2 separate regions of the Homo sapiens genome follow, and region 2 is reported to be linked to region 1. The links are microRNA targets in miRTarBase. Many come from high-throughput screens and were not tested one by one. Region 1 holds a microRNA gene; the other region holds the end of a gene's coding sequence.
What was found. The annotated mature microRNA hsa-miR-1289 reads UGGAGUCCAGGAAUCUGCAUUUU and lies in region 1 at 2,321-2,343, opposite strand. An mRNA with a match to its seed (bases 2 to 7 or 8) in the 3' UTR can be bound and repressed. Matches are read on the target gene's strand: a 7mer-m8 pairs with bases 2 to 8, a 7mer-A1 pairs with bases 2 to 7 and ends in A, and an 8mer does both.

Region 2: the mRNA of NUBPL is a reported target of hsa-miR-1289. Seed matches in the 3' UTR shown: 7mer-A1 at 1,813-1,819.

What each region holds. Positions count from the first base shown.
Region 1 is chr5:133,425,295-133,429,693 of GRCh38, forward strand. MIR1289-2 (microRNA 1289-2) reads right to left here and starts at 2,412; the gene lies at 2,302-2,412. The region is part of intron 3 of FSTL4 (follistatin like 4); the gene reads right to left.
Region 2 is chr14:31,858,480-31,862,878 of GRCh38, forward strand. NUBPL (NUBP iron-sulfur cluster assembly factor, mitochondrial) reads left to right here. Exons shown (of 11, transcript NM_025152.3): 11 at 639-2,745. The coding sequence ends at 701. Among named protein-coding and RNA genes, the nearest start is that of LINC02313, 84 kb to the right of the region's middle.

The sequences.
Region 1 (4,399 bases):
CCTGTCCCAGCCTGGTCTTGTCTCCCAGCAGGAGACCCAGAGCAAGTCAGCTAGAGGCTGGCAGAGATAATGCCATCCCCAGGTGGCAAAGCTGTTAACCGCGCATCGCCAAACCCTCCAGGCCTGAGGTTTAACAATGCCCCACAGCAGGAGTTGTGCTGAGATATTAAGAAAGAGACAAAAGGGAAAGCTATGTCGAATGTGAGTTCAAATTGTTCAGCAGAAAACCTGGAAAAGTAATTAGCAGACTCTTGTGAGGAAAGAATTAATGCCCAACTGACCTCCCAAGACTCTGTAATATCTGAATTTCCACTGTTGGATATTCATTTCTTTGAATAGCCCTTCTGGGTTCCTCTCTGAAACTCTACATTTGAACTTTAAAGTTAAAGCATTAATTAATTAATTCACTCATTGAATAATTCTGTGTTCCTACTGTGGGTGAGATGCTAGGTCCTGGGACACAGCAGAGAATAAGGGAGATATGGATCCTGCCCTCAAAGCTTATGATCCAGTTTCTGGCTGTCAAGTGTAGCCGTGTGGTTTGTCCACTGCACGATAAGCCAAGTGGCGGAAGAAATCCAGAAGCTGGCTGGGTCCAAAGGGAGAACAGGGACATAGGATAAAGAGCCTGCATTTGAAGTTAGGGTGAGGAGAAGGGAAGCAGGAATGACGTGGGGGGCTCTAGTCTTCCTGTCTAAGTGCTGGGGACCCCCCCTGAGCAAGACCCTTCTCTCTTGGCCTTGGTCTTCTCTTCTTCCACATATGGGGAGCTGGAAGTGGACCAGTCTTGACTTCCTCTGTAGCTTTCACCTTCCTCATTGCCCCAACATCCCTGAGAGTGTGCCTTTGATCTCAAAAGAAGTCATCTTTCCCAGTTAGGAATTTTTAAAGCACAGAGTGTGCTAGCAGAAGACAGAGTGTTGTCCTTCAAGCCTGACCAAAGGAAAGTCTTTGCCATGAAGGGAGGACACAGGGAGCAAAGGATAGCCGGGAGTCTGGGGAGGTGAGAGGGGGAGACCTGCCTCCGTGGCTCTCCTGGGCTGTGCTGACCCGCAGGACCAGTGGCTTGGGTCTCCTGCATAATGAGCCCATGTCACTTCATGGGGGTTCTGGGCAGATGAATAGCGCTGCCCTGCCCCCTCCGCACTCCCTAATTGGAGAATGTCATGAAGTTGGTCTCCAGACAGAGATCATTAGGAAGAGACTAACAATTCTGATCCCTCATAACGGAGCTCTCATGGCCAATTAGCAGCAGAGGAAACTGAACTGTACCGTGGGTTGGGGAATGATCAATGCCGGCATTGTGCATTCTGGCAGGGTGGATCACTGGGTGGCTGGGGAGTGGAGGCAAAAGTAGTAGAAGCGGTGGCAATGGGGGCTATGGAGGAGCAATCTCTGGCTGGAGGCACAAGCCTCAGTCCTGTTATTTCCCAGGGAGACAGTCAGCCAGTTCTGCTTTAATAATGCACTGATAGAAGCTCCAGTTCCCTTCTTTAGTTTAGCAAACACCACTGCTACTGCAATCCAGAACCCAAACCAGGCTAAAATGTTTCCTTTTTCCGAAAGTCAGCACAAGTTCTGGGAGGAGTAAGCTGAGATTTCAGGTTCTAAAACAACCTAAATCTCAGCATGTCTTATGTTCTCAGTGTTCCGTCTCTCAAATGCCCAACGGCCCAGAGGAATTTTGGTTTATCAAACCTTGAAATACCCCAACATTCCTCACAGTACTCTTCCATCCTATGAACTAGCTCACACTGCCCCCCAAGACTACCCCAGCAATGTCACCACTGGAGAACACACAGGCTCTGGAGTCAGGCAGCCCTGGGTTACAATCTCACTTCAGCTGTGTGACCTTGGACCAGCCACATAACCTCTCTGGGCCTCAGTTTCCACACCTATAGAGCATGGATAACAACTACTATCTTCCCCAAGGACGAGAGACGGCTCATGTGCAATGCCCAGCACAGTGTGGGCCACCAGAAGGTGCTCAGTAACTGGAAGGGTGCCTTGTTTTATCAGCTCCCACAGCTGAGCCCTGTTCTCAAGGAATGAACCCAGGGGCCTGAGAGGATGTAGCCCCTTTTGGCAGTAGAGATATAAGAGTCCACTTCCGAGGCTTGCCTTTCTCAATTTGCAGGGCTACTGCCTTCTCCAGACCTCCCAAGCCCAGGAAACTGTTGGTAAGTGAAAGGGTGAGTGAGTGTGTGTTGCGGGGGTGGGAGTTCTACACAACACAGGCGGCTCTCCTCATGAGTGCTTCCAGCAATTAGTGCACGCAATGGCGGGGGGAAGGGCGGGAATGGCGGGGGCGATAGGGGTAAAAATGCAGATTCCTGGACTCCACACCCAGTGACTCTGTTCAGTAGTTCTGAGGCAGGGTCTAGGAATGTGCCTTTTTAACTAGGACCGTGGCTGAGTTAGGTTACAAAGCTGTGGTCTTAGATCACATGTTGAGAAGCCCTACAGGGTTGCAACTTCTGCCATCAGGACAGACAAGGCTTTGGTTCCTTCTCAGAGGTTTCATCTGGCCATGTGGCTCCAGAGAAGTGTGAGGGTTTGGGTTTCTCTGGGGAGGTGCACACAGGACCTTTGCTGTCTATAGTTGCGCCTTCTGGAAACATTGGGCAGGCACAAGGGGTGAGAGGTGGAGCTGGGGAGGCAGCTATTTCAAGAACTCTTCTGGAGTCCCTAATGGGAGAAAAATCACACTCTATACCCAGATATCAACTTGTGTGAGTTGGGAGGTCACAAGTAATGTGTGAATAACAATACCTCAGGTGTGCTGAGTTGGAAATGAGTTGTTTTATGATAATGAATTTCAAGTGGATTTAAATTTATCCCTGTAATAATATCATTGCCATACACTTACACGATGAAAAACTGTGTGTGTATAAAAGGGATTGCAGCCAATGTGTGGAACTGGCAGGACTCTTGATCTATTTTACCTGGGTATGCCAGACAGATGATGTAATCTGTCATACGCATCATGGCAGAAGTAGGGCCTGCTGCACCATCTGGGCTGTGATCTCTGACTCTCTGGCTTGCCCTAGCTGCCCTAAGCTGGTGCCTTACTAAGCTCACCTTGCTGCCACCTCCAACTGGACCATGGGTAGGGGCTGCCCAGGGCCTTGCTTGACATGCTTGTGGAGGGTACCCTGTCCAGAGCCAACAGGACACGAACAACAGAAGGGTCAGGTCCATTCTGGGTTCCAGCTATCCACTGTGAGGCATCTGCTAAGGACATCCTGGGCATGAGACCTGTGTGAACTGGCACCTGTGCTGTTCTCAGCATGGCAGCAGCTGCAGAGACCGAGGCCCTGAGCACCAAGTGGTCACACAGCACAAGTGACTGCCCAGGTGCAGAGGTGCTGCATATAGGGGCTCCTGTCCTCACTCTCTGCAGAAGCAACCTCGACTCCAGATATTGAGGGCTCTCTCATCCTGGATGCTCCTTGCTCTATGGCCACTAAACTTAACATGACTCTTCCAAAGGGTTTTTCTGTTAATTGTCAATGCCAGCCCAGGGCTGGCATGTAGTGGGCATGCAATGCTTCATTGTTAAGAGTAAACTACGACACACAGAGGCACCATTTCCGTTATGGTGTGAAATGCAAATGTCATCATCCTAAGCAGCTTCCCCAAGTCTCAGCTGTAGTTTCCAGAAATAAGTGACTGCCTTCTTATTCACATGCAGGAACTTCAGTTATTTCTTCCTGGCCCTAGTAGTGGGATCCTAAGGATAGCATAAATCAGGGGAAGAAACCCAACACTAAAGTTTCCATAGAGCATTACCCTGTGAAAGCCTCTTCTCCGGAGGGCCCTAACCTGGGTCCCAGATGTGGTTAAACTGATTTGCCCCTCGTTGGCTCACATCAGCAGAAATCTGCTCGTAGGACGCCCACAGCCCATGGAATCATGAATGCCGAGGAGCTGCCCCCTTCATCTTTAATTCAAATGAGCCTGAGGATGACGATGGCAATGGCACTGATGTGGGCTGAGCTCTTACCACATGCCAAGTTCTGCTTAAAGTGCCCTCTGGAAATGATCATCTCCACAACAATCTCACAAGGGAGGTAGAAATAATACAACCTATTTCTATTTTCTTGGTGGGAACACAGGCTGAATGAGGATTCTACCCCAGGACTGCCTGGTACCAGGTCTATGCTCGTGACTCCCCCACCCCAGGGATGAAGGGAAGAAACCACATAAGCTGGAACAACAGCCAAGCCAAGAGAAGATATCAGGAATGGGGGCTGACTTTAAGCTCACTCTCCCTCCAGAACCTGCCTTCCTCAAAAGTAGGCCTGTCCTCTTGATTGTGAATCTCCAGGCTCCTAAAGACTTATCAGGTCATTTGGATTCCCTGTACTATGGGTTTCTGGACTCTTGGATGCACCGT
Region 2 (4,399 bases), not on the chromosome of region 1:
CCATGCAGGCATTAGGTTAGCTTGTGGCCCACTCTGTGGCTTAAGAGCTGCTGTTAGTGTCCCATGACACTGGGATCCCAGACATAAAGAGTGTAACAATGGAACTAGGATTTTTTGCATGATATCCATTTTTTACCAGGTGAAAGAGCCTATAGGTGCTTGGTGCTGGTATTACACACCATTCTCGGGGAGATGAAGAAAATGCTTTCCTAAGATAAACTGTAGCATGGTAATAAATAGTCCTCCTTAAAATGACTAACAGCTCTTATGCTAAAGAAGTTTTGGCAGTCTCTAACTCAATATATCAATTTTTCAGAGCAAAAAGGTGTAATCTCTCTGCAACTAGACTGGGTTGCTAGTTTGCTGACACCAGAATTAGAATTTGAAAAACAGTAATTTCTGGTACTAAATATTACTTCAGAGTCACCTTCCAAATAATTACCCTCCAAATAATCTAAAATTCTTTCTTCCTTGTGCCGCCTGCAATATATACAGCACTATCTTCTCAATACTGAATTTCCTCATCTCACTCAGCCTTTTTACTATCAAATACAGTGGGCCTCTATAACAAACAGTTGATGAGTCATTCAATGTCTGCTGAAGAGAAATACAGAACAAATAAGTTTGTTCTTTTCCAGGCCAAAGCTTACTTGAGGATTGCTGTGGAAGTGGTAAGAAGATTGCCATCACCTTCAGAATGATTCCCCAAGTGTCCTGGAAATTTGCCTGGTACTGACATTAAGAGGACCTTTGGAAATCAGCAATGTGGTGATGGAACCTACAGAAATAATAGAAATCATAACTGTTTTATTTCTAAGGAAAGAATGTCTTCATATTTGACTTGCTAAGCTAAGGTTCACAAAACTTTGATGTATCAATGTTAACTGCTATATTTAGGAATTTTTTGAAAGCTGGTGTGTACCACCTGCAAAGAACTGCATTTTATTTTATTGAATTACCCCTTTAGAAATCACGAGTTTATGATGTTACAAGTCCATTTTGGGAGAGAACTGTACACTTTTTGCAGGACCACAGAATTAGTAATTTAAATGATATACTAAATTTGTGTATGGGCATAAGTATTACGCCTTCCCACCAGGCAATTTGGACTGTCTTTGAATCCTGTCTTTGGTACTGTCTTGGACATGTTCTTAATATGAACCTCTGCTTCTTCATCTGGATCACACTATACCCCAGACTTAATGAATTTCAGTCTCCAGGAGTGGAGCCTGAACATATGTATTTTTAGTAAGACCATGATGATGTTGATGATGATTCTGGTAATCATGGCAGTAAGAATAATAGCTAACATTTAACAAGTTAATTATAATTGTTCTTCCATTTGTGTGAGTGGGTACTATTATCTCCATTTTACAGATAAGTAATTTGAGATATAATTTGAAGGCACTCAACCTTGAGTGTCTTGCTGAGGGTTACTGTATCTAGCAGGTGATGGAGCTTGGATTTGAACTTGAGTAATTCGATATTAGATTCATCTTTTTGTACACCAATGTGCTTTTGTTAATTAAAAAAAGTCGGTGGTGGCTAGGCGTGGTGGCTCACGCCTGTAATCCCAGCACTTTGGGAGGTTGAGGTGGGTGGATCATGAGGTCAGGAGTTCAAGACCAGCCTGACCAACATGGTGAAACCCCGTCTCTACTAAAAATACAAAAATTAGCTGGGTGTGGTGGCATATGCCTGTAATCCCAGCTACTCGGGAGGCTGAGGCAGGAGAATCATTTCAACCCGGGAGGCTGAGGTTGCAGTGAGTGGAGATTGTACCACTGCACTCCAGCCTGGTCAATGGAGTGCGACTCCATCTCAAAAAAAAAAAAAAAAAAAAAAAAAGTCGGGGGAGATGCAATATTTAGCATTTCCTCAAACTTTTTTTGGCCATGAAATCCACCACCCCCCTCCTTTTTCAGAGCATTTCATGAAGTTCACATTTCAAATAATACATTTTGAAAAACATTTATCTTGTCTAATTGAAGCTCAAAGAGATAGAGTCAATGACTTTTCAAAGTCAGGTAGCAGATAGTTTTAAAGCTGCAAGTACTGATAAGTGTGAGCCATTAGTTAATTCGCATTTATAAAGAAGTGGTCTGTCACTTTTGGCAAATGTCTTGACATCTGTTGCTCTACAGTTGTCAACTAGAAAATTAGGCATAGAGTTTCACATTATTATAAGCATGTTTTCACACAAAAACATGTACATTGATGTTTATTGCAATTTTATGTGTAATAACCAAAAACAACCCAGATTTTCTTCATTGGGTAAATGATTAAACAAACCATAGTACATTCATACCGTGAGTGCTACTCAGCAATAAAAAAGAACAAACTATGGGTACAGGCAGCAACTTATAATTCCAGAGAATTATGCTGAATGAAAAAGGCCAATTTAAAAAGGTTTTGTACCAAAAGATTCCATTTATATAACGTTCTTGAAGTGACATAATTATAGAAATGGAGAACAGATTAGTGGTGGCTGTGTTAAGGAGGGGGTGAGGATGGGAGAGAATTGGGCGTGGCTGTGAGAAACATGAGGGATCCTTGTGATGATGGAAATGTTCTATATCACAGCTATCGATGTCAGTATCCCAGTTGTGATATTGTGCTATAGTTTTGCAAGATGTTACCACTGGGGGAAATTGGGTGAAGGGCACATGGAATCTCTGTATTATTTCAACTGCATGTAAATCTACAATTATCTCAAAATAAAAATAAAAGTTAAAAAAACACAAACTGCTATATCTGAACTGAAATTTACTGGACCAAATTATACTAATTAATATCATGAATAAAATTATTTGTGGACACACTGTAATCATATCACTCTGAGAAGGAAGTAATGACTTAAAGTTTCAGATATTCTTTGTGTATTTATTGTCTGTTGAGGAAGAAGAAAATATAGATGATCATTGAGCACTTGTGAATACAAAAAATACTTAAACCAAACTTAACTTTTTTCAAAAAAGAATGACTTAAAGTTGTATGTCACCATTTAATACATATCATAGGGAAATGGGAAAGGTGGTCTTTACTCATAAATACATGACCGAGAGAAGATCCACATATAAAATTCCCTGCCCTCTTCTCCTCCTTCTTTTGACTGTTGTCTGCAGATGCTTCAAGGAAGTCTACTGAAACAAATGGCGGTTGGAATATATATGCAGGTTTAGACATGGAGGAAGGAACAGTAGCTATAAAACAAGAACTAAGCTTATTCTAAAATTTTGCCACCAACTCCAAAGGTAGACTGAAGTACAGGTAGTTTGCCTGTTTGTTAAGGAGTGATATTTATTTTCCATTCTTCACATCTCAGTAGAGTGTAAATAAAAGACTGATATTTTGAAAAGGTGAACAAAATTGGCAAACCTTTAGCCAGGCTCATTAAGAAATGAGAGAAAGAAAGATGACATAAATCAACAAATCAGGAATGAAAAGGAGACATTATTACAGACATGAAAAGGACAATAAGAAAGATTACAAACAACTTTATGCCCATTAAATTGAAGACTTAGATGAAATAGACAAATGCTTTGAAAGAAACTACCAAAGCTCACTTATGGAATAGATATATTCCTTTAATATAATTTATGACTGAGTAGTCATAAATTACTTTTAAAAATATAATTTGTGTTAAGAACCAACAAAGAAAACTCTAGCCCCAGATGCCTTTACTGTCAAAATCTACCCAACATTGAATGAAGGAATAATACCAGTTCTACACAAACTTTACCAGAAAATAGAGGGGGCACTTTCCAACTCATTTTGTGAAGCCAGCATTACCCTAATATGCAAACCAAAGACAAAGACAATACAAGAAAAGAAGAATACAGACAAATGTTCCTCATAAACATAGACAGAAAATTCTTCAACAAATCTTACTTAATTGAATCCAGCATTATATAAAAGGATAATACATATGACTACAAGGTCATTTTCCTGGGAACACAAGGTTGGTTCAACATTTGAACATCAATCAATGTATGGCAGATTCAAGAAGAAACAGTAAAGCAAAACAGACTAAAGAAAAAAAGCATGTTTATTTGAATAGGTATAGACCAAGCATATAACAAAACTGAACATTCATTTGCAATAAGAATTAGCAAACTAGAAATAGAAAACAACTTTTTCAACCTAATAAAAGGCATCAACAAAGAACTACAACTAACATTATTGCTAATGGTGAAAGACCTACTGCAAGGCTGTCCAAGCTCACCATTTTATTCATTATCATACCTAAGGTCTTTCCTAGTGCAATAGAAAAAGAAATAAAGGCATATAGATTAGAAAGGAAGAAATAAAACCATCTCTGTTCACACACAAATTGATTGTCTATGGAGAACATTCCAAATAATATACACAAAAGCAACTAGAACTAATACATGGATTT